Linked DNA regions of Homo sapiens: all the other regions are linked to region 3. Evidence: fine-mapped expression QTL. A gene starts in region 3. Each other region holds a variant in brackets. All regions are shown on one strand. Distances are from middle to middle.

Evidence for each region. PIP is the estimated chance that this variant, and not a neighbour inherited with it, causes the effect.
Region 1: its variant is fine-mapped to the expression of PAFAH1B1 in whole blood (TOPMed, PIP above 0.99).
Region 2: its variant is fine-mapped to the expression of PAFAH1B1 in whole blood (INTERVAL, PIP 0.90).

What each region holds. Positions count from the first base shown.
Region 1 is chr17:2,698,982-2,709,480 of GRCh38, forward strand. It overlaps CLUH (CLUH binding protein of NUMT mRNA), which reads right to left. Exons shown (of 26, transcript NM_001366661.1): 2 at 5,381-5,583; 3 at 4,337-4,508; 4 at 2,933-3,076; 5 at 2,632-2,756; 6 at 2,385-2,539; 7 at 2,159-2,284; 8 at 1,697-1,844; 9 at 1,401-1,493. Among named protein-coding and RNA genes, the nearest start is that of CLUH, 7.5 kb to the right of the region's middle. RefSeq lists enhancers at 1,233-1,733, 7,772-8,668, 9,885-10,084. The variant G/A (reference allele first, on the strand shown) is at 4,579.
Region 2 is chr17:2,670,757-2,680,021 of GRCh38, forward strand. PAFAH1B1 (platelet activating factor acetylhydrolase 1b regulatory subunit 1) reads left to right here. Exons shown (of 11, transcript NM_000430.4): 7 at 1,899-2,001; 8 at 3,304-3,532; 9 at 5,749-5,850. Among named protein-coding and RNA genes, the nearest start is that of MIR6776, 18 kb to the right of the region's middle. The variant C/T (reference allele first, on the strand shown) is at 5,393.
Region 3 is chr17:2,587,873-2,598,371 of GRCh38, forward strand. It overlaps PAFAH1B1 (platelet activating factor acetylhydrolase 1b regulatory subunit 1), which reads left to right and starts at 5,782. Exons shown (of 11, transcript NM_000430.4): 1 at 5,782-6,134. It also overlaps the pseudogene EIF4A1P9. RefSeq lists an enhancer at 4,988-5,716 and silencers at 5,551-5,770, 5,821-6,050, 6,461-6,520, 6,581-6,630.

The DNA.
Region 1 (10,499 bases), 110 kb after region 3:
GGTTACAGTGAGCCGAAATCACACCACTGCACTCCAGCCTGGGGGACAGAGTGAGACTCCATTTCTAAAAAAGCGCAAACAAACCAAAACCCCCATGTTTTGAGAATACACTTGTGCTGAGGGAGACAGCAGGGCTTAGTGATTAACAAGCGTGCGCAGGTTTGGGATCCACCAGTTATGTGCCAGGTGAACTTGAACAGATAAAGGTATTGACCTTTACAAGTTGTCCAATATATTATAGGAAATAGTCTCTATAACGCACTTGGCACCATCTCTGGTGAAGTCGGTACCCGAGAAATGAGTTTTTGTTTCTACAATTATCATCTCTAGGCAGTATAACTATGGGAGGTTGGTTGTTTTCAGACAGGGTATCACGCTGTTGCCAAGGCTGGAATGCAGCGGCACGAGATCCGAGCTCACTGAAGCCTCGACTTCCCCTGGCTCAGGCCATCCTCCCACTCCAGCCTCCCGAGTAGCTGGGACTACAGGCACATGCCACCATGCCTGGCTAATCTTTTGTATTTTTTGCAGAGACGAGGTTTCACCATGTTTCGTAGGCTGGTTTCCAACTCCTGGGCTCAAGTGATCTGCCTGTCTCAGCCTCCCAAAGTGCTAGGATTACAGGCGTGAGCCACTGTGCCTGGCTGAGATTTCTTTTTTTTTTTTTTGAGACGTAGTCTTGTTCTGTCGCCCAGGCTGGAGTGCAGTGATGCAATTTCGGCTCACTGCAACCTCCGCCTATTGGGTTCAAGCAATTCTCCTGTCTCAGACTCCCGAGTAGCTGGGACTACAGGCATGCGCCACCACACCCAGCTAATTTTTGTATTTTTAGTGGAGATGGGGTTTCCCCATATTGGCCAGGCTGGTCTTGAACTCCTGACCTTGTGATCCGCCCGCCTCGGCCTCCCAAAGTGCTGGGATTACAGGCATGAGCTACTGAAGCCGGCCTGAGATTTTTTTTTTCTTAAGCAACTGCTTTTCCTCATTTCTCTTAGTAACCCAGCACTAATAACTTTTAAACCCCAGCAAACTAAAAGTGTTATGCAAATGAGCACCCGCCCTAGAAGGGCCATGGCCGGCCAGTGCTCGCCCAGGCAAAAGCCCCGCAGCAGTCACAGAGGGCGGGAAGCTGCACGGCCCTGGACACTCAGTCCCTATGGGAAGTAGGGCCCGCTCCTTCCAGGGACTCAAAGCCTCAGAGAGGCCAGAGAAAGGTACTGGGATGGTCTGCTGGGAGGCGGAAGGCTAGCAGACCCTGCGGGAGACGCTGACTGGCCTTCGGGGAACCTGACAGGGTTAGGGCTGCCCCTGCCTCCCTTGCTTTCCTCCTCTCCATGAGAAAACCCGTCAGCAGGTGGACAGCGGGCCTCAGACTGCCGGTCAGCAGAGGCTGCAGGCACCTTGAATATGGCCCTTTCTCGGAGCAGCCGCTCAGGCAGGTTCTTGCGAGGCAGCTCCCTCGTCGTCTGCAGCTCCTCATTCCAGTCTCGGGTCTGCAGAGAGATCAGGGAGGGAAAAACGAGCTCAGCCTGTGCCCTGTGACCTGCTCCCGGAAGTCGCTCCTTCTACCTTCCTGAGAAGAGCCCCAGACTCCCAAATGAAGTCAAGCATGGGGCCTCCAGGGAAGTGCACGGAACCAGCCCAGCACCCAGGAGGGCAGGGGTGCCCAGCGAGGGCAGGGCCAGGTTGCAGGCACCTGTCCAGGAATGTGCTCCTCATAGCCCAGCCTCGAGGTGTAGGCGTCCTCTGCACGCACGCAATCCATGGCATGCTCCGCCTGGGGGGCTGTCCAGCTGTACACCTGGAATGGGGTGGCGATCCTCTCGAACGGGTGGCGCTGGACCCTGTGGCAGGCAGGGGAGGGGGAGATGGGGCAGCCCACCAAGCTCAGAGCCCTTCCACGGGCCCCTTTTCTGAGGCCCCCGCCTGCTCCGGCATCTCCCACCCTGAGACACTGCCCTGGAGCCAGATGGAAGTGCACGGGCGCCTCTCCTGCGGCTGCTGTCTCGGCACTGGCCGACAGCTCCCTAGAGCGGGGACTCCAACACTGGGGGCCCAGGGCGGTTTCTTCAGACAGAAGCACTGGAGTGCAGGTGGGCCGGCTCACCCCATGCCCCCGTGTGCCATGAGACAAGGCGGGAGGGGACAAAGGCACTACCTTTTCTTCTGCAGCACAGCGAAGTTCTTCTTGAAGGTCGGGCTGATCTGGTTGAGCAGCTCCACTAGGGAATGGCTTAGGAAGCGGGGGCTGGCGGGCTTGGGGTTGAAGTGATAAGCTGTGGACCTGCAGGGAGAGGGCGGGCACTGAGCGGGGGCCCAGGTGTCTGCCCAGACCCAGGACGGCTGGCACGGCAGGGGGGTGTGGTGGGCTGGCAGGGACTCACTGATTCAGGTAAAAGCCCCGTGTGGACGCGGTGATGCTGACTTGCCGGTCCTCGGCTGTGATCACAAACAGGTACATGAGGTCCCCGTGCATCTTCCGGTTCCCCGGGGGCGGGTTCCATCCGCTCATGGTGAGTACTTTCAGGCACTGCAAGGGCTTCGGGAGCGGCCGAGTCTGAGGGGCCAGGCCTCTGGTGTGGGGCCTCCACCCCGCCAGGGACCCTCTTCCTCCCTCCCCCAGGATCCTACCTTCCAGTCACGGTTTTGGGGCTGCAGGGGACACAGTGGCCGCTCCCGGCTCCCTGGCAGGATGTACTCGGGTGGTGTGCAGTCGATGGGGTCCATCTCCAAGCCCTTCTTCCGCTTCCCGCTGTCTGAGGGACCCGAGGCTGGTGGTCAGCACAGGGCCACCCAGGGCCAGCTGTCTCCCTACCTCCTGATGGCCGTGGTCCGGGTGCCTCAGGCCCAGGCCCCTCGGCCCCTTCTCCAGCCCCCCACCTCCGTGCTCCCCGCCCTTTGGCCCAATCCCCGGCCCCAGTGCCTCCCGCACCTCCCAGGTCGCCGTCGGTGAAGACACTCAGGAAGGACAAGGAGTTGCAGTCAACCCCGTTGAAGGCATCGGATGGGTCCAGGCTCTTGAGCAGGTCTCGGACATGGCGCACGTGGATGCGGGCCTCACGCACCGTGTACGGCTCTGTCAGGAAGGCAGGGAGGGTATGGCGTTACCAGGGCCCTGCACCCTGAACAACCTGCCCAGCACAAAACAGGTTTTGGAGGTGCTAACACAGTGGTTTTAATTTTCAACTTTAGGTTTCCGTTTTCAAATTCCACTGTGAACACATAAGCTGGAGTTCTGGTTTTGACACCACAAACACACACACACACACACTCTGCCTACTGGTGAGCAGGGATCTTTGTTTATAAAGAACTTTCTGCCAAATGCCTCTGAAGCACACACAGGCCTCAGGCGTCCACAAGGCTGCCTGCTTTTGTGCGCCAGTGTGTCGGCTGGGCAGGGCTTTTGGAGCTGTGGGACTTCCACACCACAGCCTTGCCCTGCTCTCCCGAGGCAGCCTCATGTAGGGGTGGCCTGAGGACTTTCCAAGGCCCCCAATGTCAACACTGCCCCTATGTGGTTTCATGGGATTTTAATGGCAGTTCTTTTGGTGGAGGGGAGAGGTTCCGTGATCAACTGTGGGCGCTGTTGAGCTACAGACCTTTTCCGTCACTGCTCTCAACAGGCGGACAGGCCCTGGGGTGGAACCCAAGCAGCTTCTACCCAGAAAACTCGAGGCCACAGACCAACCGGATGGCACCTCCCCGTGCCCGACCTCCCCACTCTAGGGCTAGGAAACGTTTGGGACTTCTCATGGATCTCTACAGAACTGAACTGCGCTGACTTCACGCCCTGGGATGGTACTGCCTGATTTTTTTTTTTTAGAATCACGGCTCTGTTCTTTTGTTTTGTTTTTTTTTTTGAGACGGAGTTTCGTTCTTGTTGCCCATGCTGGAGTGCAGTGGCACGATCCGGGCACACTGCAACCTCTGCCTCCCAGGTTCAAGTGATTCTCCTGCCTCAGCCTCCCGAGTAGCTGGGATTACAGGCACCTGCCACCACGCGCAGCTAACTTTTTGTATTTTTAGTAGAGATGGGGTTTCACCATGTTGGCCAGGCAAGTCTCCAACTCCTGACCTCAGGTGATCCACACGCCTTGGCCTCCCAAAGTGTTGGGATTACAGGCGTGAGCCACCATGCCCAGCCCACGGCTCTGTTCTTTAACCCATGGGCCGTGAAGTTGGCAGATATAGGTGTGCTGGCCTGAGAAGCAGATCTGTGCTCCAATCCTGCCTCCATGAGCTCATCCGTGACACAGGGACCCTGGCATGGATGGTGCTGCCTGCCTCTGCCTCCGTGGGCCCTCCCCCGGGCAGGCTGTCCAACTTCCAGACCAACCTTCCACCACACGCAGCACAGAGCCCTCCTGCAGCCCCTCGACGCTGCGCAGCTCCGAGAAGTGGTCCAGCACGTTGCCATCCAGGTGCAGTGAGAAGCAGGTGCGGTGACACGTGTCCTCCCGGTCCATGAGCACCTGGTGAATCTCCTGCACCATCTCCTGGGGGGACACCTGCAGGGAGAAGGCCCCGCCCACCCCGGTGAGAGAGCACGTAGCGGGGAGAGAAGGCCCCAACCGCCCC[G/A]GTGAGAGGCCACGTAGCGGACAGCAAGGACAATATCCCCTTGTCCCCAGCCCAAAGTACCTTGGTCCCCAGAATAAATGCCCCAAATACTCGAATATCGGCTATCCCACTTTCTGGCTTTTAAATCCAGGCCATGTCCACACATGCCATGCCCTGTGTGTGCAGCCTGGAGCCTGGCCCACCGACTCGGCCTGCAGACCCAGAGCAATGCCCGAGCAGAGAAGGGAGATGAAGAACAGCGGGACAGAAGACGGCAGGCTCGCCCCCGGCCTTGCCCAGTGCTAAGGTGCCTGGGGCAAATGGCTTTCCCCTTCCAGAAGGGGTGCTCTGGGGCCCAAGCCTGCGGGTGCCGAGACATACGACGACCCTGTCTCGTTCCCCACTGAGTCACCGGCTTGCAAGACCTCCACGCTGGCTCTGCCCTTGGAGATAACCCAATACTACCCTCCCCTCTGGCAGATGGTAAAATCACGGCCCAGAGAGAGGTGACTTGCCTGAGGGCACAGAGCAAGAGGCTGGGGAGTCCTGGGATGCCAACACTTCCCAGCCACTATCACTCCCCTCCCCACATAGGGCTGGCAGGCCCAGCTGGTTGCTGTCCTCTAGCAATGGGGCAACGACCTGACCCTGGGCTCGATTCCCACGTCCACCACGCTAGCTGAGTGACTCTAGGGAGGGCACGGGATCCTCAGTTTCCTGCCACAAAATGGGGCCGGTAGGAGCACGAGCAAGGCTGAGCTTTCCAGCTCACCCTCCCCAGCAGGCTCAGGCCTGGCCCCCAGCACCCGTTCCTCCATCTTACCTGCAGGGAGAAGGGCTCGATCCCAGGGGCGAGGATCTTCACAGAAAAGCCCGTGTCCTGAATGACAATGACTTCCTGGCCGGTGGTCTCATCTCCCGGGCCGGCCTCGTCAAGCCCATTTTCCCTGGGTGGCTCGGCCGCCGCCGCCTCCTTCTTCAGGCTCTCTGGGCAGTCCCCGTTTAAGAGCATGACTGATGGCAGCTCTGCGGGTGACAAGAACGGGTCAGAATCAGGCAGCCTCGCTGGTCGGCGGGGCTGTCCGCCTGACCCCACACGGGGACACGTGCCTTCTGGAAAGGCATCTGCATGCCCTCGAGAGTCCCAGCCTCACGGTCGCGCCTCGCCCTCCGTGCACCTGCAGGCCACTTCCACACCCAGCCGCCCCTCCCAGCCACTGTTCCCTGGCCCACTGTGGTATGGCTTGCACCTGAACCCATGTCCCAAACCACTCTCCCCAGGGTCACCAAAGCCACCCTTCAAGCCAAGCCCGAGGGTCTCCTCCGGCCCTAACACACCTAGCTTCCCAGCAGCAGTTCCCCTCTTCCTCTCCTCTTCTCTGACCCCACACAGTGCCCTTGCCCCTCCCTCTCCAGCTCCATCCTCTTCCATCCCTCCTGAGCTGTGGTCCTGGGCTGCAGGGGGGCTGCAGGGGAGTGCCTAGGCCCAGCCTCTCCTGTTTCTGACCCCACCCCCTCCCATACACTCCTGCCCCGTGGCTCACACGGCCAATCCTGTCCTCTCTCCAGCCTTTTGGACCAAGGAGACCGCTGCCTCCCAGGCATCAACATGTGGCTGTCCCTGAGGCATCACTGAAGCCTCGTCTTGCAGGGACAGAACTCATCTTCCTCCTCAAACTGGCACCTGCTCTATCTAGTCACCCACCCTAAATCTCCCAACCCACCCACGGGACCCGGCCTCTGCAGCCACTGCCCTAGGGCAGGCATTTCCTCTATTTCAGCAGTGCCACCTGCAACCCTCCTAGGAAGCCCACTGCTTACAAGACCAAGCTTCTCAGGCCAGCGCTCTCAGGCACCCACCTGAAGTCAGCCTCAGCTCCTGCCTGCTCCCTGCTGAGGTCTAAGGACACCACACCATGCAAGCCTGGTACCGCCCACAGCCCTCCCACCGCCCTCCCACCGCTGTGCTTCTGTGTCTGTGCTGCCCCTGACATCCCATTCTGTACAGCAAACACTGACTCACCCTTCAAGGCCTAGGAGAAATAAACCTTTTCCACAGCCTGCCCAAATGACCCTTAATGGCAGAATCACACTCCCTCCCCCTTTCATTCCCAGAGACATTCGGCTGCACCCAGGGTGGCGTCCTCACCAGCAGCTCTACCCACCACCTTCTATCTTGCCCAGGCTCAACAAAAAAGGCAACAAATAAAGTACTTACTGCAAACCTCTAGCTACATCCAATATTTGAAGACAGCACCCAATCCACATGCTCCAGGGTGGGGAGCAGGTGACAAAACCTTGCATTCCTACCCAGGCACCAGTGGAACAAAGGAGAACCCCCTGTTCCGCTGAGGAGCCAAGGATCGCCTCTCAGTAACCCTCCAGCAGACACGGGCCTGCCTGGGCACCCATCTAGGAGATGAGGACCTTGGCCCCCAGGATCTGTCCATGGGCCAGGCTCACCTGCCTGGCTTGGCTTGAAGTTCAACGGTCCCAACTCTGAGGAGTGCCTGGGTTCCCTTCCAGAAAGAAGAGCTCGCCCAGCTCTGCCCATCCCATCTAGACCCCACCTCCCCTTCCCCACCCGGCTCTCAGGAGCGGGGACAGGTGCCTTTCCCAGAACTGTGTGGTCCCAATCCGGACCCACCAGAAACACGGAGCAGGAGCCTCAGGGAAGGGATGAGGCCAGTACGGAAAGGCAGAGACCGGGGGGCCTGGAGAGAGTCGCTCCCTTTCCCTGGATCCCCACGAGCAAACGAGAAACAGGACCTCTAAGAGCTCAGAGTCTCTTCCCCCTTACCCCAAAGAGGGGTATTTGAAGCCCAGAAAGGCTCGGAGCCTGGCCTAAGGTCAACCAAGTCAGAATGGGCCCCAGACTCCCTCCTGCAGCCCGCACCCTACGCCGCGGCACTCCCTCAACTCTGGCCACTGAGGACCTTCAGTAACTGTGCATGTCATGGCTCTCCACCCCACCCTCTCCAAGCCTGCAGTGGACTCCCAGGAACCACGAGGATGTACAAAGACCTCCCTTCCAGGATCCAACCGCCCCAGGAAGGGCACCCCCAATCCCCTCGCACGTGAGCAGCCCCACACACCTGCCTGACTCTAGTGACAGAGCAGAAAGACAGCCGGGGCGGTGGTCGGTCAGCTTGCAAACAGCAAGAGGCAGGGCAGCCAGGTGGAGGAACTGCCCCCACAGGGTCCCTGAGAAAGGCTGTGCTGGCTGCCAAGCCCCTGGAATAAGGGGAGAAGCAGGAAGGGCCCCCACCCAATATAGAACAGCAGTTTTGAGCTATGAGATCCCAAAAGTGGGGAGTCAAATACCTAGACAGAGACAGCCTGTGTTCTTTCGCATGTCTGGAATGGGAGGACAGAAAGGAGGGACGACAAGGCAAGGTGGCCGCGGCTCCCACTCTCCTTCCCCAGCCCAGGGAGACGACCCTCAGGGGGTACCTATTCCCTATCCCGTTTCAAAGGAATGCAGCTGGCTCCCAAGGGGCCTCCTCTCCCCAGGACAGCATGTTTTACCCTAATCCTTCCTCCTAGGAACCCCGAAGGTCTCCCCACCCCTGGATGAAGGCTGAGCGATCTCCCCCGCAGGCAGCTGGCTGGCTCACCAGGTCCCGGTGCTCACCTGGTGCAGTTGGCAGCTGCCCTCCCCTCGGCTCTGGAGTCTCAGGATGGCCGTGGCAGCAAGGCAGCCAGCTCTCCAGCTCAGCCCCAGCATTGCCCGGGTTCCTTGTTCCAGCCTCTGCCGCTACCCTTGCCCTAATGCAGCCAGTCGGCCCGGGGCTGGAGCTCCGGCTGGCTTCGGGTTTCAGTGGGGCCAGGCCTGCCATGGCAGCCCCAGGAAGGGCACACTCCCCCTGCCTGGCATCCCGCTCAAGGTCGGCCAGAAGGACGGCTGTGGGCCAGGAGAACCCGGTGGCCCCAGGACCCCAGGGGGAGCTGCTATCAGCACTCAGGCCCACCTCCCTATGCCCCCTAGAGAGGGGGTCACTGCCGGCAAAGCCGCTAGGGGGATCGGAGAACCCAGAATTTGGGGTACCTGGACCCCTCAAGATTGAGGGCCTAGGAGACTGGCTGGCAGGGGCAGGGCCCAGCAAGGGGGTCCTCTCCTCCGCTCCCATCCCAGTGGGGGTGAACAGGACCGCTTCTGCCAGCTGCCGCCAACAGCTGGCACAGACCCGGGTCCAGGCCATAAGGTGGCTGCCTCTGCCCACCAGTCCCAGACACTGAGCACCCCACTGTCCCTGGGCCAAGGGCCTGGCTGGGACCTCTGGCTCCTGCTGCCCCCTGCAGGTGACCTGGCTGCCAGCCCCTTCCTGGGAGTCACTGGTTCTGGTGGAAGGGAGGGGGATGGGCCCCCAGCTTCCCAGAGGACAACTGCACCCGTGCCCCTGGCCTCCAGGCTCCATCAAGAAGCTGGCAGGCTCCATCTTCCCTTCCCAGCAGCCCCGGCTCTGCCAGGAGGGAACCAAGTCTCTCCCAGGGGAGAACAGAGCTGGCAGCAAGAGGCCAGTGGCCGCACGGCGGGGGAGGAGGTGCCCAGCTGGCCAGGGCGCCTTCCCAGGGCCTCTGACATGCTGCCAGTGCCCAGTAAGGGCTGCCCCAGCATCCACCCTACCCAGGGTGGGCGGGAGCCAGGCTCTCACTCCATCCCCTCCCCTCCAGGACCAGGGATCAGGCAGACCCTGGGCTGCTTCACAGCCCCCATGGAAGGTTCTGGGTCTCACACAATGACCAGAGGAGAAGGACCAGGCCTAGACAGAGCCCCTCTGCTCCTACCCTCTCCTGAAATACACCCTAACCCTCCGGAGAGAGGGGTGGGGCAGGGCAGCCTGGCAGTGACCCCAGAGAAGTGTTGACAACCACCTGCACTCTGATTACCACAGAGCCAGGACTCACGCTAGGCCCAGCCCACGGCAGCTCCCTAAACCGCCGTGCCAGCCCATCTCACCTGAGGAAACTGAGGCTCCAGAAGGCTAGGAAGCAGCTGCCCAAGGTCACAGAGGCAAGAGGAGCCAACCCAGAGCAAGAAAAAACCAGGTGTTACTATCACATTTGGGATTAAGTTTAAAAAAAAAAGGAAAGAAAAAACAGGAGTGTCAGACGCCCAAGCCCATGGCTTTTGAGTCACTCCCACTGAGCGCGGGCTACCCACCCGCTCCCACCGACCTGCTCCCGCCGACCCGCTCCCATGGACCCGCTCCCACTGACCCACTCCCACTCAGCGCAGCCCACCCACCCCCTCCCGAGGGGCCCGGCAGCACCCACAGGTAGGCTGCACCTGCCTCCTCGTCCAGGCCTCAGCCTCTACTCGGGGGGGGGGGAGCAGAACTATCCCAGTCACAGCACTCCCCAAGGCCTCTACACCCTTGGGCCAATACTCCCTCCTCTCATAGTCCAGGAGCACCTCTGAGGATGTGAGCTTTAGGGGAGGGGAAAAGGAGGTCTTCTGCAGAGCGGGAGAGCCGTGCCCCAACAGCACTCTGCATACACGCAAACTCAGATGCTAGTGAAGAGACAAAGCACACCCTTGCCCCGGCCTGGAGGCGCCGGGAGCTCAAAGGCGGCAGAGAGGAGGAACTAGAAAAGAAACTTAGGCCTCCCAGAGGACCTGTGTGCTGCCCAAGCCAGGCACAATCTCACTCAGAAGACTGTGCCAGGGCCAGGCCACGCCCCAGCCAAGGCCTCAGCAAGTGAGGCTCCAGCAGGAAGTAGGGTCCGAAAAGGTGCATCACCCGTCCCGGGAGCCCAGGGCTTCAGGGAAAGGCAATGGGGCGGGCAGGCGGCCTATGGAAGAACCTACAGACCAGGCACCTGTTTGCCTCCTTCCTGTCCCACCCAGGCCAGAGGCAGGCGTTCAGGGCCTGAGGACAGTTCAGAGTTCCTCAGGCTGCTCTCCCCACATCCCATCCAAGATCCTGTTGCGGAGCTCC
Region 2 (9,265 bases), 82 kb after region 3:
CGGGTCTTGTTGTGGGAACTGTTTTCTGAGGCAGTATGTTTTGTGGAAAGAGAGTAATTTGCTTTGGAGTCAGACACCTGGGTTCAAATTCCTACTTGTCTACTTACGGTATTAGAAAATTTAAACCTCTTTCATCTGCAAAACAGAGGTAATAATACCAGAGTCATAGAGTTGTCATGAGGATAAGATGAAGTCATAAGATAAATCATCTTGGTGTAGTACCTGCCACATAGGAGATGCTCATTACTTAGGGATTTTTGTTGTTTCTTTATACATGATGACATTTGAATGTTGGGATTTTGTACAAGGAACACGTTAACACATGAGTAAACTGTGTTTACCTAGAGGGCATAATTTGAAGGTTGTGTTTTCTCTGTCCCAAATTAAATGCATTGGGGAAGTTTATAATTACAGGAATTCCACGCATGAACACTGTTTTTTTGTTGTTGTTTTTTGGTTGTTTTTTTTTTGAGACTGTGTCTCACTCTGTCGCCCAGGCTGGAGTGCAGTGGCACAATCTTGGCTCACTGCAACCTCCGCCTCCCAGGTTTAAGTGATTCTCCTGCCTCAGCCTCCTGAGTATCTAGGATTATAGGCACGCGCCACCACGCCCGTCTAATTTTTGTATTTTTAGTAGAGACGGGGTTTCACCATGTTGGTCAAGCTGGTCTCGAACTCCTGACCTCCTGATCTGCCTCAGCCTCCCAAAGTGCTGGAATTATAGGCGTGAGCCACGTAAGGTCTATCATTTATTTTTCTTTAAGTTGCCTGTATCTTCTAGCTGTAACTTTAAAAAGAGTTCTTTCTAATGCATTTTTTTTTTTTACCCCCAACACCACCTTTTTTTTTTTTTTTTTTTTTCTGGAGATGGCCTCTTGCTTTGTCACCCAAGCTGGAGTACAGTGGCACAATCTTTGCTCACTGCAACCTCCACCTCCCAGGTTCAAATGATTCTCCCACCTCAGCCTCCAAAGTAGCTGGCAATACAGGCAAGCACCACCACACCCGGCTAACTTTTTTATTTTTAGTAGAAACAGGGTTTAACCATATTGGCCAGGCTGGTCTTGAACTCCTGACCTCAGGTGATCCGCCCGCCTCGGCCTCCCAAAGTGCTGGGATTACAGGCATGAACCACTGCGCCTGGCCCACCATTTTAAACAGAGAACCAATTCCCCATTTTTTGTATCCATTTGCTTTATCTTTTTTATATCTTAGAATATCAACCTAGAAGCTAGGCACAGTGGCTCACACCTATAATCTCAGCACTTTTGGAGGCCAAGGCAGGAAGGATTGCTTGAGGACAGGAGTTCGAGACCAGTGTGAGCAAAATATGGAGACCTTGTCTCTACAAAAAATAAAATAGTTGTGGGTGTGGTGGTACCAGATGTGGTGGTACACACCTGTGTAGTTCCAGCTACCCGACAGGCTGAGGCGGGAAGAGCTCTTGAGCCCAGGAGTTCAAGGCTACAGTGAGCTATGATTGCACCACTGCACTTTAGCCTGGGTAACAGAGCAAGTCCTTGCCTCACAAAAAAAAAAAAAAAAAAAAAAAAAAATGTTTCCCTAGCGTTCATATGTAAACATTCAGACTCACTGAGGTAAGTATATGAATATATTCAAATGTTGATAATCGTGATGCCTTTTGTTTTTAAACCATTTGTACAGGTTGAAATTTAATCCTAAATGGAGTTGACTATTTCCTTGTGGGTTGTTGTTTTACTGATTTTTTTAACTTTATCGTGTAAATCCAGGTTTCTTATCCAATTTGTATAAAATCCAGTGTATTTAGAACTTGCTTTGACATAGTGAAACCCCATGGTAAAATCCCATGGTCAATTGATGTTTCATTGCTCTTGGTGGTATATTACTTCATAATATATTGCTGTTATGTGTTTTAGGCCATGACCACAATGTTTCTTCAGTAGCCATCATGCCCAATGGAGATCATATAGTGTCTGCCTCAAGGGATAAAACTATAAAAATGTGGGAAGTGCAAACTGGGTAAGTAAGTTTAGTTGAAAAGGCATCAGCGGCCAGGTGCAGTGGCTCACACCTGTCATCCCAGCGCTTTGGGAGGCCAAGGTGGGCAGATCACCTGGTCAGGAATTGAAGACCAGCCTGGCCAACATGATGAAACCCCATCTCTACTAAAAATACAAAAATTAGCCGGGTGTGGTGGCGCACACCTGTATTCCCAGCTACTTGGGAGGCTGAGACAGGAGAATCACTTGAACCTGGGAGGTGGAGGTTGCAGTGAGCCGAGATCGTGCCATTGCACTCTAGCCTGGGCAACAAGAGTGAGACTCCGTCTCAAAAAAAAAGAAAAGGCATCAGCTTAAAGACATATTTATAAAAAACAAAATTGTGTTCTGGTGTTGCAGTCACTTCGACTTTAACCCGGAATGATCATTATGACAGTCATATTAAATATACTTTAAAACTAAGTTTGATCTGTACATGTCTCCCAAAAAGGAGCACAGAGACATTGTAAGGAGAGACTCTATGTCCTTGAGAAGCATTTCTGTGTAATGGCTTATTTCCTCTGTGGTCTTCTTTTAGGTGATCTCTCTGTGGGTTTAAATTAAAGTGTAAATAATCTTTGGCCGGGCGCGGTGGCTCACGCCTGTAATCCCAGCACTTTGGGAGGCAGAGGCGGGCGGATCATGAGGTCAGGAGATCGAGACCGTCCTGGCTAACACGATGAAACCCCGTCTCTACTAAAAATACAAAAAATTAGCCGGGCGTGGTGGCGGGCGCCTGTAGTCCCAGCTACTCGGGAGGCTGAGGCAGGAGAATGGCGTGAACCTGGGAGGTGGAGCCTGCAGTGAGCCGAGATCGCGCCACTGCACTCCAGCCTGGGCGACAGAGCGAGACTCCGTCTCAAAAAAAAAAAACAAAAAGTAAATAATCTTTGTGCTGGTATACCTCTGTTAGGCTGAATTTGGTTGTGCATAGAATTACACTTGATTTTTGTAGTACAAAGTTACTAGTTTTACTCAGATTAGTAGAGCATAGCTTTTTTCCAATATGGCTGGAAATACTTTTAAGTGTGCATTTAGTTTTGAAAGATTTTATTTCTTATACATATTTTATCTTCTAGATGTTGATTTTATTAGCTCCTTAATGATATGTCTGTTAGCTTATTGTTCCTACTTTAATTAACCAGGATTGTACATTTATTCTGTCGACTTGCATCTCTAACTTGGTACCATTCTCTTCATCCCAGTACATATTTTTATATCACTTCTGGGAAGTGTCCTGATGATTGTCATTCACAGTGTAAGTTATTATTTATATTGACAGCTACTGTGTGAAGACATTCACAGGACACAGAGAATGGGTACGTATGGTACGGCCAAATCAAGATGGCACTCTGATAGCCAGCTGTTCCAATGACCAGACTGTGCGTGTATGGGTCGTAGCAACAAAGGAATGCAAGGCTGAGCTCCGAGAGCATGAGCATGTGGTAGAATGCATTTCCTGGGCTCCAGAAAGCTCATATTCCTCCATCTCTGAAGCAACAGGATCTGAGGTACTGTATATACAAATGTCTTCATGGTTTTATTGCTGATATCTGAAGTCCTTAGATAACTTTGCTAATTCCCTGTTTCAGGGCTGTTAATGCATTTAAAAATCTGCATCCAGCAATTCTGAATCTTGAAATTCTCTACTCTTCACAGCTTGCTGATGTGTTTACATTATTTAACCAGTGATGATTATTGCTGTCAGCCTATCCTTGATTTGATACGTGATGGGTATTCTCCTAAAGAATTAAAATTTATCAGAAAAATCAGTGTTATGAGATCATCTCAATGTAAAACAAAACCTGAGGGAGAGGTTAAAGTTTTCTGTCAGAAAAATAGCCTTCATTAATGAAGATAATGATTTTATTTATAAATTTATGGTAAAATGCAGTTCAGTATTTATTTTTTAAAATTAATTCCAGATGTGATAGTATAAATGTTTTTTTAAATGAAGACTAATCCATATGGCAGCCTCTGATGTTCTTGATCATTTAAAAGTACTAGCTGAGCCTGGAGTTTTAACGCATTTCTTTGTGATCTTTATGGTTTTGGTCTTTATTATTAATATGTTAAAAATTACAAGGTACAGCGGCACATGGCTATAGTCCTAGCTACTCAGGAGGCTGAGGCAAGAGGATCACTTGTGTCCAGAAGTTAAAGTTCAGCCTGGGACAACATAGCAAGATCCCTGTTTCTAATAAATGAATGAAAATGAATGGTCTAAAACTTTTGTTTGTTTTTGAGACAGTCTCACTCTGTTGCCCAGGCTGGAGTACAGTAGCGTGATCTCGGCTCACTGCAACCTCCGCCTCCCAGGTTCAGGCGATTCTCCTGCCTCAGCCTCCTGAGTAGCTGGGACCACGGATGCATGTACCACCCTGCCAGCTAATTTTTATATTTTTAGTAGAAACAAGGTTTTGCCATGTTGGCCAGGCTGCTCTCAAACTCATGGCCTCAAGTGATCCGACCACCTCAGCTTCCCAAAGTTCTGGGATTACAGGTGTGAGCCACTGTGCCTGGCTTCACATTGATTTTGACAGAGGCATTCCTATCATGTATTTTTAAAACTACATGTCAATAAACAAAGGAGGCAGTTTCCTCTCCCTCTACCCCCATCCCACTTATTTTTCTAAATGAATCTTCTCTTGTGAGTTCTCTTTATTTTGATTGGCCCATTGCATTTTGAGATTCTGTTTACTGCCCTCTGGTGGTGGTTACATGCTGTATGTCATAAATTTGATTCTGGTGTGGTGGCTCACGCCTGTAATCCCAGCACTTTGGGAAGTCAAGGCAGGAGGATCACTTGAGCCCAGGAGTTTGAGCAACATAGCGAGACCCCGTCTCTACAGAAAACTTTTTTTTTTTTTTTAAACTCACCACTATACTAATGACGGAAAAAATTTTCAAAAACTTAGCTAGGTGTGGTGGTACACTCCTGTAGTCCCAGCCACTAGGGAGACTGAGACAGGAAGATTGCTTGATCCCAGGAGTTCAAAGCTGCAGTGAGCTATGATTGTTCCACTGCACTCCAGCCTGGGTGACAGAATGAGACCCTGTCTTGAAATAAATAAATATTCCCTAATCCAGATCAAAAAAATAAATAAGTAAATTTGGTTTTGGTTGGATTTGTAAAAGTTAAATTAAATAGTGATTACAGAAATCTTGAAAAGTAAATTTATTATCTGTTGGTTTTATGAAAACTGAGTCCTAACCTAAATAGAGACTTCTGTTCTTACATTATCTGAGTCCTTCCTGTGTAGCATAGGTATGGTGTGAAAGACTTGTGTATTTCAACAGATAAAAACAAATTGGGCTGGGCGCAGTGGCTCACGCCTGTAATTCCAGCACTTTGGGAGGCCGAGGTGGGC[C/T]GATCGATCATCTGAGGTTAGGAGTTCAAGACCAGCCTGCCCAACATGGCAAAACCCCATCTCTACTAAAAATACAAAAATTAGCCACATGTGGTGGTGCGTGCCTGTAATCACATCTACTTGGGAGGCTGAGGCAGGAGATTCGCTTGAACCCGGGAGGCGGAGGTTGCAGTGACCCAAGATTGCACCACGGTACTCCAGCCTGGGTGACAGAGCCAGACTCCGTCTGAAAACAAACAAAAAACCAAAATGCAACAAAAAAATTGGAAATATATATCATTATTAGATAGAAGCCATTTAAAGTCCATACCTAACTTCTTGTGTGGGAAACTTAATTTTTATTATGTTTTCTGTAGACTAAAAAAAGTGGTAAACCTGGGCCATTCTTGCTGTCTGGATCCAGAGACAAGACTATTAAGATGTGGGATGTCAGTACTGGCATGTGCCTTATGACCCTCGTAAGTTTGCATAATCTTACCATTTCTTTTGCATCTTCACTGTTTATACCTTTTTGGATTAATGCTTTATGATATCTTAAATAATCTGAATTATTCTGGGCTTTAAAATAACTTCTTTATAAAGATAGTTTTCCTTTAGCTTTTGTTGTTGTTATAGTGATGTGAAAGTTATTTCTCTAGAATGCAGATTCTATAAAGAATCTGTAGAGCCAGTCGGTGTTTGAGGGGGAGATGCTGCTAGCTCACTGTATCTTTAAAAATTGTGTAATATCTCGGCCGGGCGCGGTGGCTTACGCCTGTAATCCCAGCACTTTGGGAGGCCGAGGCGGGTGGATCACGAGGTCAGGAGATCGAGCTAACTTGGGGAAATCCCGTCTCTACCAAAAAATACAAAAAATTAGCTGGGCGTGGTGGCGGGCGCCTGTAGTCCCAGCTACTCGGGAGGCTGAGGCAGGAGAATGGCGTGAACCCGGGAGGTGGAGCTTGCAGTGAGCCGAGATTGTGCCACTGCACTCCAGCCTGGGCGACAGAGTGAGACTCCATCTCAAAAAAAATAAAATAAAACAAATGTGTAATATCTCTTACGGAGAAAAAGCAGCATTCTTAGAGACCTGTTCACTGTTGAAGATGTTTGTTTCTCTGTTTCACTTTATTTATATGAATCCTTTTAACTGTTATACCTCCTTGCTCACATGATCTAGTTTATTTGGCTTATTTAGGAGCATCTGTATTTCCATAGAAAGATATGTCAATACTAGTAAGGGATTGTGGACATTCCTATGTGCCTAAAGGAGTTCCAAGGAGATCTGTGGATGTTTGTTTAGTAGTAGTTTTTATAATTTGGCATCCACATTTGTTTAGAGATTTTTTAGGTGCTAATGATACCTTGAAGTGATTGTCTCTCTGTAGGATATGACAGACATATGTGGAAGCATCTTCAAGAACTGATTAGAAAATGAAACTCTCGGCCGGGCACGGTGGCTCACGCCTGTAATCCCCGCACTTTGGGAGGCCGAGGCGAGCAGATCACGAGGTCAGGAGATTGAGACCATCCTGGCTAACATGGTGAAACCCCGTCTCTACTAAAAATACAAAAAATTAGCCGGGCATCCTGGCGGGTGCCTGTAGTCCCAGCTACTTGGGAGGCTGAGGCAGGAGAATGGCGTGAACCCGGGAGGCGGAGCTTGCAGTGACCGGAGATGGCACCACTGTACTCCAGCCTGGGCGACAGAGCGAGACTCCGCCTCAAAAAATAAATAAATAAATAAATAAAAAGAAAATGAAACTCTCCTCTAGTAGTATTCTGAGCGGAGTTCAGCTATACCATGTTGCTGTTAAGAAAAGATGATATATAATTAAAATAAAGCAGGCCAGGCGCAGTGGCTCACTCCTGCAATCCCAGCACTTTTGGAGGCTGAGGCAGGTGGATCACCTGAGGTCAGGAGTTCAGGACCAGCCTGGCCAACATGGTGAAACCCCGTCTCTACTAAAATTACAAAAATTAGCCGGGCGTGGCCAGGCGCGGTGGCTCACGCCTGTAATCCCAGCACTTTGGGAGGCCGAGATGGGTGGATCACCTGAGGTTGGGAGTTCGAGACCAGCCTGACCAACATGGAGGAACCCCATCGCTGCTAAAAACACAAAATTAGCCAGGCATGGTGGCACATGCCTGTAATCCCAGCTACTTGGGAAGGCTGAGGCAGGCAAATCACTTTAACCTGGGAGGCGGAGGTTGCAGTGAGCCAAGATCACGCCATTGTACTCCAGCCTGGGCAACAAGAGTGAAACCATCTCAAAAAAAAAAAAAAAAAAACCCGGGCATGGTGGCGCACGTCTGTAATCCCAGCTACTCGGGAGGCTGAGGCTTGAGAATCGTTTGCACCTGGGAGACGGAGGTTGCAGTGAGCCGAGATCGCACCATTGCCCTCCATCCTGGGCAGTGAAGTAAGACTCTGTCTCCAGGAAAAAAAAAGAAAAGAAACAAGAAAAACATACTCTTGGCCAGGCACAGTGGCTCACACCTGTAATCCCAGGACTTTGGGAGGCCAAGGCAGGAGGAGCCCAGGAGTTTGAGACCAGCCTGAGCAACATAACAAGACCCTGTCTCTACCAAAATAAAAGTTTAAAAATTAGTCATGCATGATGATGCATGCCTATAGTCCTAGCTACTTGGGAGGCTAAGGCAGGAGGATTACTTGAACCCAGGAATTTGAGGCTTTAGTGAGCCGTGATCATGCCACTATACTCCAGCCTGGGCAACAGAGTTGCTGTCTCTTTTTAAAACAAAACAAAATTTTGCAGTGCTGTGCTATAACTGCACTATCCAGCGTGGTAGCTACTAGCCACATGCAGCTATTATACTCTTGAAATGTGGCTAGTGAGACTGAAGAACTGAATTGTTGGTTGTATGTAATCTTAATATTATATATTAAAGTAGGCGTACATGGACAGTAGCTACCATGTTCAACTGTGCAGTTCTAAGCCTTTTTCTTTAATGTGTAGATGAATGTGCTATTTTTTATAAAAATGGTATCATGCCCCTTAAGGTAGCTTTGTAGCAAACCTTTAATTTAGAAAGTATGTGATCCTTGCTTATGTTGTTAGATGCTCTTCTACACTGATCTACAGACAATGCTTTGTGAACATCTTTGCTAACTAAATCTCTGGGCATGTCCTTAAAGATAAATTGCAAGAACAGAACTGCTGCGACAGGGGAAATATGGATGGATAGATGGATGGATGATTAAATGGATGGATGATTAGATGGATGAATGATTGGATGGATGGATGGATGGATGATTGGATGGATGGATAGATGGATGATTGGATGGTTGGATGGATAGATGGATGATTGGATGGATGGATGGATGATTGGATGGATGGATGGATGGATGATTGGATGGATGGATGGATGGATGATTGGATGGATGGATGGATGGATGGATGATTAGATGGATGATTAGATGGATGATTGGATGGATAGATAGATGGGTGGGTGGGTGGATGGATGGATGATTGGATGATTGGATGGATGGATGGATGGATGGATGGATGGATGGATGGATATATAGATATATAGTGAATGCCTGTATATCCTTCACTTAGTTACCATTTGTTGGTTTTCCTTCATGTATGTGTGTATATTTTGCTGAAATCATTTGAGCGTTCTTTGCAGACATCGTAACACTTTACCCCCAAGTATTTTAGCATGAACCACCTAAGAACAAGGATAGTATATAAATAACCAAAATAAAATTATTCACACTCAAGAAATTTACCATTGATAGACTACATATTGAGATTTGTTCTTGTTATTTCCATAATGCCCTGCGGGACTTCTTTTTAACCCTCATCCAGGACCCAGTCAGGGATCGTACGTTATATTCACTCCTCATGTCTTATGAGTTTTCAGTTT
Region 3 (10,499 bases):
TTAGAAACATACATACATATATATATGAATGTTTCTCTCTATATATAGAGAAACATACACACATATATGTATATATACACATATGTATATATATGATTCTTAGAAATACACAAACGTATACATGTTACATATATGTAACATATAAGCATGCATATAACATATACACATAGTTACATATATGTAACATATACACATAGTTACATATATGTAGCAGTTACATATATGTAGCATATACGCATAGTTACATGTATGTAGCATATACGTATGTTACATATACATATATGTGTGTATATATACATGCATGATCCTCAGAAACATAGATATGTGTATATATATACAGACATCCTTAGAAACATATATATGTGTATATATATACTATATATATGTTTCTAAGGATCATGTCTGTGTATATATATATACACATATATATGTATATATATTTAATTTTATTAATGTTATTTTTTTGAGACTGAGTTTCGCTCTATCGCCCAGGCTGGAGTGAAGCGATCTCGGCTCACCTCAACCTCTACCTCCCGGGTTCAAGCGATTCTCCTGCCTCAGCCTCCTGAGTAGCTGGAACTACAGGCTCGGGCTACCACACCTGGGTAATTTTTTTTTTTTGTATTTTTAGTAGAGATGGGTTTTGCCACACTGGCCAGGCTGATCTCGAACTTCTGGTCTCAGCTGATCCGCCTGCCTCGGCCTCCCAAAGTGCTGGGATTACAGGCGTGAGCCGCCACGCCCGGCAAGTGCTGCTTTTTAAATATTCCTTCTATGTCCAGGCTGAGTTTCACTCTGTTAAGAGCCTTTAATTTGTTTTTATGGACTCACAGTGTCCATGACACAGGTGGATGTCATGATGCTGAGATGAGGAAGGACGGGTCTAGTTGGACTTGCCCTCGCTGACATATCCATGCCTTGGGGAAATGCAGGTACACACAATAACTAGCTATAATCTCCCAGAGTGAGTCGCATGACAGGCGGGTCGTGATTCTCCTTTAAATGGGACCTTGATTCACATAACTTGGATGCCCAAAAGCTCCCTTCTCACAACTTGCTAATTGCTTTCTATCAAATTTGCACACATAACAATGTACATTTGCCTATAAATTATAGAGGACAGTTAATTTCTCAAAACAACACTTTAACATTTGCCCTTATCATAAACAGACTTTTGCTCTGGAGATACCTTTAGAAGACTTTTTGTCCTTTTCCCAATAGAAGTATTTTTGGAGTGTTTCTTCCAGTCAGCTTATTTGCAGAATTGTTTAAACTGACACTAATTTTACTGCAGCAATTGAAATAAATGTTTCCAGGCTGGACGTGGTGGCTCACGCCTGTAATCCCAGCACTTTGAGAGGCTGAGGTGGGCAGATCACCTGAGGTCAGGAGTTCGAGACCAGCCTGGCCAACGTGGTGAAACCCCATCTCTACTAAAAATACAAAACTTAGCTGGGCATGGTGACGGGCGCCTGTAATCTCAGCTTCTCAGGAGGCTGAGGCAGGAGAATCGCTTCACCCGGGAGGCAGAGGATGCAGTGAACTGAGATTGTGCCATTGCACTCCAGGCTGGGTGACACAGTGAGAGTCCGTCTCAATAAATAAATCAATAAATAAATGTTTATGTTTCCATTTTGAAAATGTCTACTGGAAAAATAAAGATCTGCAATTAAAATGAACAGGGAGATTCTTGGATTGTGGTAAGTAAAATGGATGTTTATACTTATTTTTTTTCAAGAAACATCATCTGAAATGTCCATTATTAAACGTTTCCTGGATGGATATAGTAAGTTCTGTATAAGTCCTTACAAATTCTGATTGATAGCACAGATGTCCTAATTCTACATTTTCAATAGACAAGTGTTTATTAAGATAGATCTATCAGGCCGGGCGTGGTGGCTCACGCCTGTAATCCTAGCACTTTGGGAGGCTGAGGTAGGTGGATTGCTTGAGCTCAGGAGTTCGAGACCAGCCTGGGCAACATGGTAAAACCCCGTCTCTACTCAAATACAAAAAAAAATTAGCCGGGCGTGATAGCGCACGCCTGTAATCCCAGCTACTATGGAGGCTGAGACAGGAGAATCGCTTGAACCTGGGAGGCAGAGGTTGCAGTGAGCCGAGATCATGCCATTGCACTCCAGCCTGGGCGACAGAGTGAGACTCCATCTCAAAAAAAAAAAAAAAAAAAAAAGATAGATCTATCATCCTAGCAGCTAACTGAAGGGAAGGTGCATAGAACCGTAACACATCACTTCACATCAAGGTAAGCACGTAACCGTTTTCTGTTCAGAAAAATCATAATCCAGGGAGAAAGTTTTATACCTTACCACAAAGGGAGTTTATTGTTTTTTGAAGGACCACTATAGAAATAAAATTTGATATAAATTTAGTGCATAATTACATCATATAGATTTTAAATCTTTCTAAATATGAGTCTGTGAGCTCAAGGTTTATAGGAGTTAGTGCTACCTATTTGTATGAAGTCAGTGTTTATAAAAGTGTTTCTGATCTCTTTCTGGGCAATTTTATTTACTTTTAGAGCATTCGTTTAAAAAATAAGGAACTGATTTACTCAGCTAATTAAATATTAAGTAGCATGATATCAGACCATAATAAATATTTTAAAAGGTAAAAATGAAGGGAGGGTGGATTCTTAGAACAAAGGGATGCTAATTTATTGCATGTTTATTGACTGTTATTGAACCCAAGCAATAGCACAGACCAAAGCTCTATGCCTCATTTTATTGTCCTTATCTGAAAATCCCAGAAATGTAAAACTGGACAAGACTTTCTAAGACAATTTGATTCATCTCTGGCAAATCTTCATGAGGCAAAAACCCAAGGCCTTCATGCAATTGGCTCATGTTGCCTTTGAACACTTAGGGGATAGAGACAATCTTTCTTTTTTACTCATTTTACTTATTTAATTTAACTTTATTTTGAGACAGGGTCTTGCTCTGTCACCCAGGCTGGAGTGCAGTGGTGTGATCTCGGTTCACTGCAGCCTCCACCTCCTGGGCTCAAACGATCCTCCCATCTCAGCCTCCCAATGGGTGGAACCACAGGCCCAAACCACCACATCTGGCTAATTTCTCTATTTTTCCGTAGAGACGGGGTTTCCCTGTCTTGCCCAAGCTGCTCTCCAACTCCTGGGCTCAAGAGATTCTCCCACCTTGGCACCCCAAAGTGCTGGGATTACAGCCTTGAACGACTGATCCCAGCCTATTTTTAGAGATGGGGGTCCAGTCTGCCCAGGATACAGTGCAGTAGCATGACCATGATTCACTGCAGCCTGGACCTCCTGGGCTCAAGCGATCCGCCTGCCTCTGCCTCCTGGGTAGCTAGGACTCCAGGCATGCGCCACCACACCCAGCTAATTAAAAGTTTTTGTTTTTGTTTGTTTTTTTGAGACAGACTCTGGCTTTGTTACCTAGGCTGGAGTGCAGTGGCATGATCTTGACTCACTGCAACCTCCGCCTCCCGGCTTCAAGCGATTCTCATGCCTCAGTCCCGAAAGTAGCTGGGATTACAGGCACACACCACCATGCCCGGCTAATTTTTGTGTTTTTAGTAGAGATGGCATTTCGCCATGTTGACCAGGCCGGTCTCGAAATCCTGACCTCAAGTGATCCACCTGTCTGAGCCTCCCAAAGTGTTGGGATTGCAGGCGTGAGTCCCCGCGCCCGGCTGTTTTTCTTTTCTTTTTTTGTTTTTAGAGATGAGATCTTGCTTTGTTGCCCTGGCTGGTCTGGATCTCCAGGGCTTGAGCAATCCTCCCATCTCATCCTCCCCAGTAGCTGGGACTACAGGCATGTGCCACCACACTTAGCTAATTTTTAAAATTTTTTTGTAGAGATGAGGTTTCACTATGTTGCACCTGCTGGTCTCCAACTCCTTGGCTCAGGTGATCCACGGCCCCCCTCCCAACCTCCCCATCCCTGCCTTGGCCTCCCAAATTGCTGGGATTACAGGGGTTAGCAACCTGTGCCTGGCAGAGATAACCTTTCTTGAACAAAGGAAACTTGTTTTGGTATCAAGCAACAGTAATGTTTACATGAGTTACCTATAAGTCCCCACGAAACTAAGATACTTTACACAGGCTGCACCTCCTCTGTAATTCTCACAAAAGCCGGGTTAGTTATTAGGTGTCTTTTATTGAGAAACTGAGGCCAAAGAGAGGTATGGTAATTTGCCCCAGGTCGCGCTTCTGGCAAGTGCGGGGTCCAGGATTTACACCTAAGTTGTCTCTTTCGTTAACTCTGCTGCTTCTCAAATGCAGTATATATATATATATTTACCTACATAAAGTGACGCAATAAAATCAGTACACATAAGCTTAAGCCTGTTTCAAGAAAAAAGCTTCCTTGGACAATACAAATGAATGATAAGATAATCTCATTTAAACCTGTTATTAAAATAATAGCCCATATTGAATTATTCAGAACCCCAAATCTCGCTTTTTAAAAATCAAGGGTCGGCTGAGCACGGTGGCTCACGCCTGTAATCCCAGCACTTTGGGAGGCAGAGGCGGGCGGATCACGAGGTCAAGGGATCGAGACCATCCGGGCCAACATGATGAAACCCCGTCTCTACTAAAAATACCAAAAAAATTAGCCGGGCGTGGTGGTGGGCGCCTGTGGTCCCAGCTACTCGGGAGGCTGAGGCAGGAGAATGGCGTGAACCCGGGAGGCGGAGCCTGCAGTGAGTGGAGATTGCACCACTGCACTCCAGCCTGGGCGACAGAGCGAGACTCCATCTCAAAAACAAAAACAAAAACAAAAAACAAAAATTAGCTGGGCGTGGTGGCAAGTGCCTGTACTCCCAGCTACTCGGGAGGCTGATGCAGAGAATCGCTTGAACTCGGGAGGCGGAGGTTGCAGTGAGCCGAGATCGCGCCACTGCACTCCAGCCTGGGCGACACAGCGAGACTCCGTCTCAAAAAAAAAAAAAAAAAAAAAAGGAAAAGAAAAGAAAAATCATAGGTATCTGTGTGGAATAAATTAACTACAAATCCCCAAGACGACTCTTGTCATCAATATTTCAATCCATAATTTAGCAAACACACACAGACATCCCTTATAGGGATACAGTTCCAGGCCTTTCTTTGGGCATCCGTTTCGAGACCTGGAGAGACTCTGATGTCTGTGTGTGACTAAGGAGAAGAATAGCTGAATCATATCCAAAAGCGAGTCCTCCCAATTAAGAATCTATAATACAAATCAAGACAATGACAGCATTCCATCTGCCTTTTAACCTCAACAGCTCCTCCTCCCAAGCCAGCCAGCCTACTCCCCTCCCTCATTCCCCCCCAAACTGGGAAATCATCTCGGAGGCCGGAGGCAGAAAGGGGCGGTAGGTGGCCGGGCCCCGCTGCCTCTCGCGCCTCCCGGGGCCCGCCACACACGGTGCCAACGGGACGCCGCGGTCGGCCGCATGAGCGCAAAAGCAGGGCAGCGAGGTGAGCAGAGCCAGAGTTCAGAAGGGGCCGCAAGTCAGACGAGGGGCTGGGAAAAAAGAGCCTCTCCCAAGGTTAACAGAAGCGTGCGGAGCGTGAGAAGCAGCACCTCGCACGCAGACTCGCCCGCCGGCCGGGTGGCACCGCTCAGCCGCCCGCCCGCTAGAAGGCAGCGCGGCCCCGGCCCGGCCCAGCCCGGCGCATGCGCCGCAGCCCCTCCTCCGCTCCCGGCGCCCGCCCCTCCCTCTTCCTGGCGGGTCTGGGGCGGCGGCGGCGGCGGCGGCGGCGGCGCGGTGACGTCAGGGCGTTGGGGCAGCTCCTGTGACAGACGGAGCTGGAGCGGCGGGGCGGCGGCGGAGTCCGGCGGCCGGGAGAGCGAGTGAGCGAGCGGAGGAGCAGCGACACGGGAGTCTAGGGAGCGAGAAGGAGAAGGAGGGGAGCGCTCGGGCGCGAGCGAGAGAAACCGCGAGCGCCGAGCTTGGACTCGAGCCCCGGAACGGCTGAGGAGCCCGCCCGCTCCCCTCCCCTCCCCCTCCCCGGGCCCGGGCCCAGCGCGCCATCCTCCCCCCTCCTTCCCTCCCTCCCTCCTTCCTCCCTCCCCTCTCCCTCCCCCTCCCCCGCCGGTGGATGGGAGTGAAGGACGGAAGAGGCCCTGCGGAGGCGGCGGTGCAGCGCTCCGGTAAGGCGGCGCGGGTCTGCGCCCTCCCCTCTGTCTCCTCCACCGCGCCCGGGCGGCTGCAGGCCGGACCCGGCGGCCTGACGATGTGGCTGCGCCGGTCCCCTCCCTCCCATTCTCCCCTCCCCCTGCCTCCGCCGCCGCCTCCTCCTTCTTCTTCTCTCCTCGCTCTCAAAATGGCGGCCGCGACGGCCGTTGAGTGAGAGACCCGGAGGAGGGGGACTGTCCGGGGAGGGCGCTGCCCTCGCTCCTCTCCTCCCGGGCCCGGCTTTGGGGGCTGCCGGCGCCTCTGCGACCCCCGCCCCGCGGCCCTCCCCAAGAAGGGATCGCCCTCCTCCCTCGGTGACTTAGCAAGAAAAGTATTCTTGGGTTGGAAGGGCGTGGGGACCAGGTAGCTCTCTGATCTTGGGGAAAAGGATCGGCCCTGCTCTCCCCGGCCGCGGAGACGAGCACCGCAGTCCCCACCCCACCCTCAGTTATCGGCTCGGGGACCGGCTCAGCCCCGCGCCGCCGGGGCACTCATAGGGCCTTCCAGGCATTCCGTCCCCGACTGGTCCTTAAGATGGGGTTGACCAGCGGAGGGTGGCCCACCGTCTCCCTGGCCCCCGGTGCGGCGGTCCAGCCTCAGCACCCGCCGAGGAGAGGCAGCCCGGCCCACCGAGCAATCCGCAGCATCCACCCACCGAATCTGGCAGGATTTTCTTTCTGCCACCGGCTCCTCGGTCGGGAGTTGCCTTTTGATGCTGTTAACATTCAGCTTCGAGGCTCCCTGCCATTCCCCTTCGTCTAATCTCATCTCCCTGCCCCTTTGGGAAACGCAGTGCCTCTGCATATTTACCCTCTTTAGCCTCCCACATGAGAAAATGCCTTTGAGGTGGTCGACACATTTTGACTCTGCACCTCTAAACGTAGCAGTAGAGGGGAAGAGGTTTTCCGTATTTAGTAGGAGAGAGCAAGGTACCATAGCTTTATATGTTATGCTACCTTTCTTCAGTGACTTAGCAAGAAACTCCTTGGGAAGAGGGCAGGAAATTTTCTTTTGGGGTTTGGGCCCAATTTATATCAGTCTTTTGGTTAAGAAAATACGCCTTTGAAGAGGAGGACCAGATTTGTGGTCTCGTTCTCAATGGGCGATGTCATGCCAAGGTCCCCCCTCCCTCTTTCCTTAAGTGGCAGTCCGGACAAATAGAGATATTACTGATATTCCCATCTCTCCTTTAAGCACACAGTCTTGGAGTTTCATAAGGTTTTAAAGGCCAAACAAACAATTTGTGCCATTTTTGGCAATTCTGTTTTTGTTGGGGGGGTGGGTTATTTTGTGTGAATTTCTTTTCGAGGCTAGGGCGGAGGAGACAGTGCTTGGGCCTTTCATACCAGTGATAATGTCATCCCTCCCTTTTTGCCACAGGAGTGTTTGCTTTTTTTTTTTTTTTTGCTGCAGCAGGGCGGCTTAATTGCTGCGGGGTCCAGTCTCATAATCAGGAAAATTTCCTGTTGACTGTGTCATAGTGATGTTGAATATATAGTAAAAGCTTTTACTTAAAAAATTCTGATTTGGTTTTAAGGCATTAGCTAGCTTTTAATCTCTAATGGGTGTCTTTTAGGACACAGTTTCACAAAATAATTAGCAGTTGCAAATTGCAGTTTTTAATAAAGCAGAAGAGTAATCTGTATTTAGGGTGATTTCTTTCGTGTTCATTAATGATCATTGTTTGGATTGCTCAGAAGGGGGGAATCTCCTAAAAGAAATTGAAGGCTGGTATATATTTTAAAATCAGAAAGGAATCCAATTTTTCACTTGAAGTATTTCTGTATATGTTGATTTTGATGGAGCAAGCCCTACGTTGGTACCTCCCCCCACATCCTTTTTTAAAAAAATGGGCTAATATTTGTGGATGCTGTGAACAGCCATTGAGCCGAGAAGACTGGGTGGAGTAAGGGAGCAGAAGCTGTGAAATGCTGTATTGCCCTTTCACAGCGTCTTTCTCTTGCTTATGTTTTGTAAGGTTATTTGATATGAATGGTTGCTACAACTAAGTCATTTCTCTGTCGTAAGTCTTAAAATCTAATGTTTTCCACCTTTTTTGCATGATGGGCATTGAATGATTGGAATAAAAAGCAATGTCCCTGCTTTAAAATAGACACTTATTGTCTCCTTATTTGTCCCTGTGTGTGTGTGTGTATATATTAATATATAAAGATACACACACACATATATCTACACTCTTGTTAATGTTTTTTATTGTTCTCGCCATATAAGTATAAATTAATGTCAGAAATATTTGGCAAGAAATAGGGGGTACAGGAATACTGCAATAATCTAAGAAAAATACTACAATTGTTTTACTTAAAACAGTAAATCTATTTGAGATTTTAAAATAGTGAACATAAAAGGTGGGGAAAAAAGGATAAGATAATTTGCATGAAAGCCCCTTCAGATCTTTTCTCTTGTGTTGCTCTTTGAAAGGGACCTTTTTGTGAGATACTGCCATAAGCTAGGGTAGGTCATTTTAATGCCCTGTATCAAGCATTCACATGAGTAGACATCTTCAAAAGAATTTCACATATAGGTGGTAAATGTGACTTTGATTAGCCTTATGAATGCTTGTCAGTGTATGATGTATTTTTACACTTTTGTTCTTTTTAATATGATTAGAAAGTAGAAGGGTTATTATGGTGAGGAAATGAGTAAGGTTGGGAATGATAATTCACTGTATTATGTGTCTGACATATCCCTATTCCTACTGTTTGTAGAATATCAAAGCACACTAAGGTCCAGGTGCAGTGGTTCACGCCTGTAATCTCAGCACTTTGGGAGGCCGAGGCAGGTGGATCACCTGAGGTCAGGAGTTCGAGACCAGACTGACCAATATGGTGAAACCCCGTCTCTACTAAAAATACAAAAAAATTAGCCATGTCTTGTGCCATGCGCCTGTAATCCCAGCTGCTGGGGAGGCTGAGACAGGAGAATAGATTGAACCCGGGAGGCGGAGGTTGCAGTGAGCCGAGATCGTGCCACTGTACTCCAGCCTGGGCGACAGAGCAAGACTCTGTCAAAAACAAACAAACAAAACCCCACACACTGAGTGGTGATTTTTCAGTAGATTGTTGTTAATCAGGAGCTTAAGATAATTTGACTTAAGGAGCTTTAGTTCCAAGTGTATGTAGTGTTTCTTGATACATGTTGGAGAATCTTAGGCTTAATTTGGAGATTAATTTTTAAAATTATTCATAGTTCTGTATAGAACTCTTAATGAGATTGGAAGGAATTTTTTAGTACAATTTTTTGTTACCTGTTTTTCCAGATAAAATATCTCTAGTGTAAAGAGATTTTGAGATGTTTCTGGGAAGGAAAAGTCAGAATCATAATTTATGCTTTTCTAGCTAGAACATCCGTGTCTTTTTTTTTTTTTTTTTTTTTTTTTGAGGGGAAGTCTTGCTCTGTTGCCCAGGCTAGAGTGCAGTGGGGTGATCTCAGCTCACTGCAACCTCTGCCTTCTGGGTTCAAGCGATTCTCCTGTCTCAGCCTCTTGAGTAGTTGGGATTACAGGTGCCTGCCACTACACCTGGCTAATTTTTGTATTTTTAGTAGAGATGGAGTTTCACCATGTTGGTCAGGTTGGTCTGGAACTCCTGACCTCGTGATCCGCCCGCCTCTGCCTCTCAAAGTTCTGGAATTACAGATGTGAGCCACCACACCCTTCCCTATTTTCTATTTTTTAAAAATAATATAAATGTTTCTCTCTCAGTTGTATACTAAGTAACAGAGAGACAGAAAGTGTGTGTGTGTGTGTGTCTGTCTGTCTGTCTGCGTATATGAGACTTTATGGCTTATATTTTAAGTATCCAGCAAAAATAAGACCCTCTTGTTTACATGTGGTTCATGTTATTCATAATTTGTCATCTTTGTGAATAAGTCATGGATGCTATAGAAATTGTCAACATTAAGATGAAGATGTCTGGCCAGACATGGTGGCTCACACTTACACTCCCAGAACTTTGGGAGGCCGAGGCGGGTGGATCACCTGAGGTCAGGAGTTCAAGACCAGCATGGCCAACATGGTGAAACCCCGTCTCTACTAAAAATACAAAAAAATTAGCCGGGCATGGTGGCGCACACCTGTAGTTCCAGCTACTGGGGAGACTAAGGCAGGAGAATTGCTTGAACCCGGGAGGTGGAGGTTGCAATGAGCCGAGATCGCACCATTACGCTCCAGCCTGGGCAACAAGAGCGAAACTCCATCTCAAAAAATAAATAAATAAATAAAAATAAGATGAAGATGTCTTAAAAAACCCAAAGCAAAATATTAGGGCAGAGTGAATTTTCAATATCTTCCCATTGAGTTCTAAAGCAGTGAGTCATGCGCT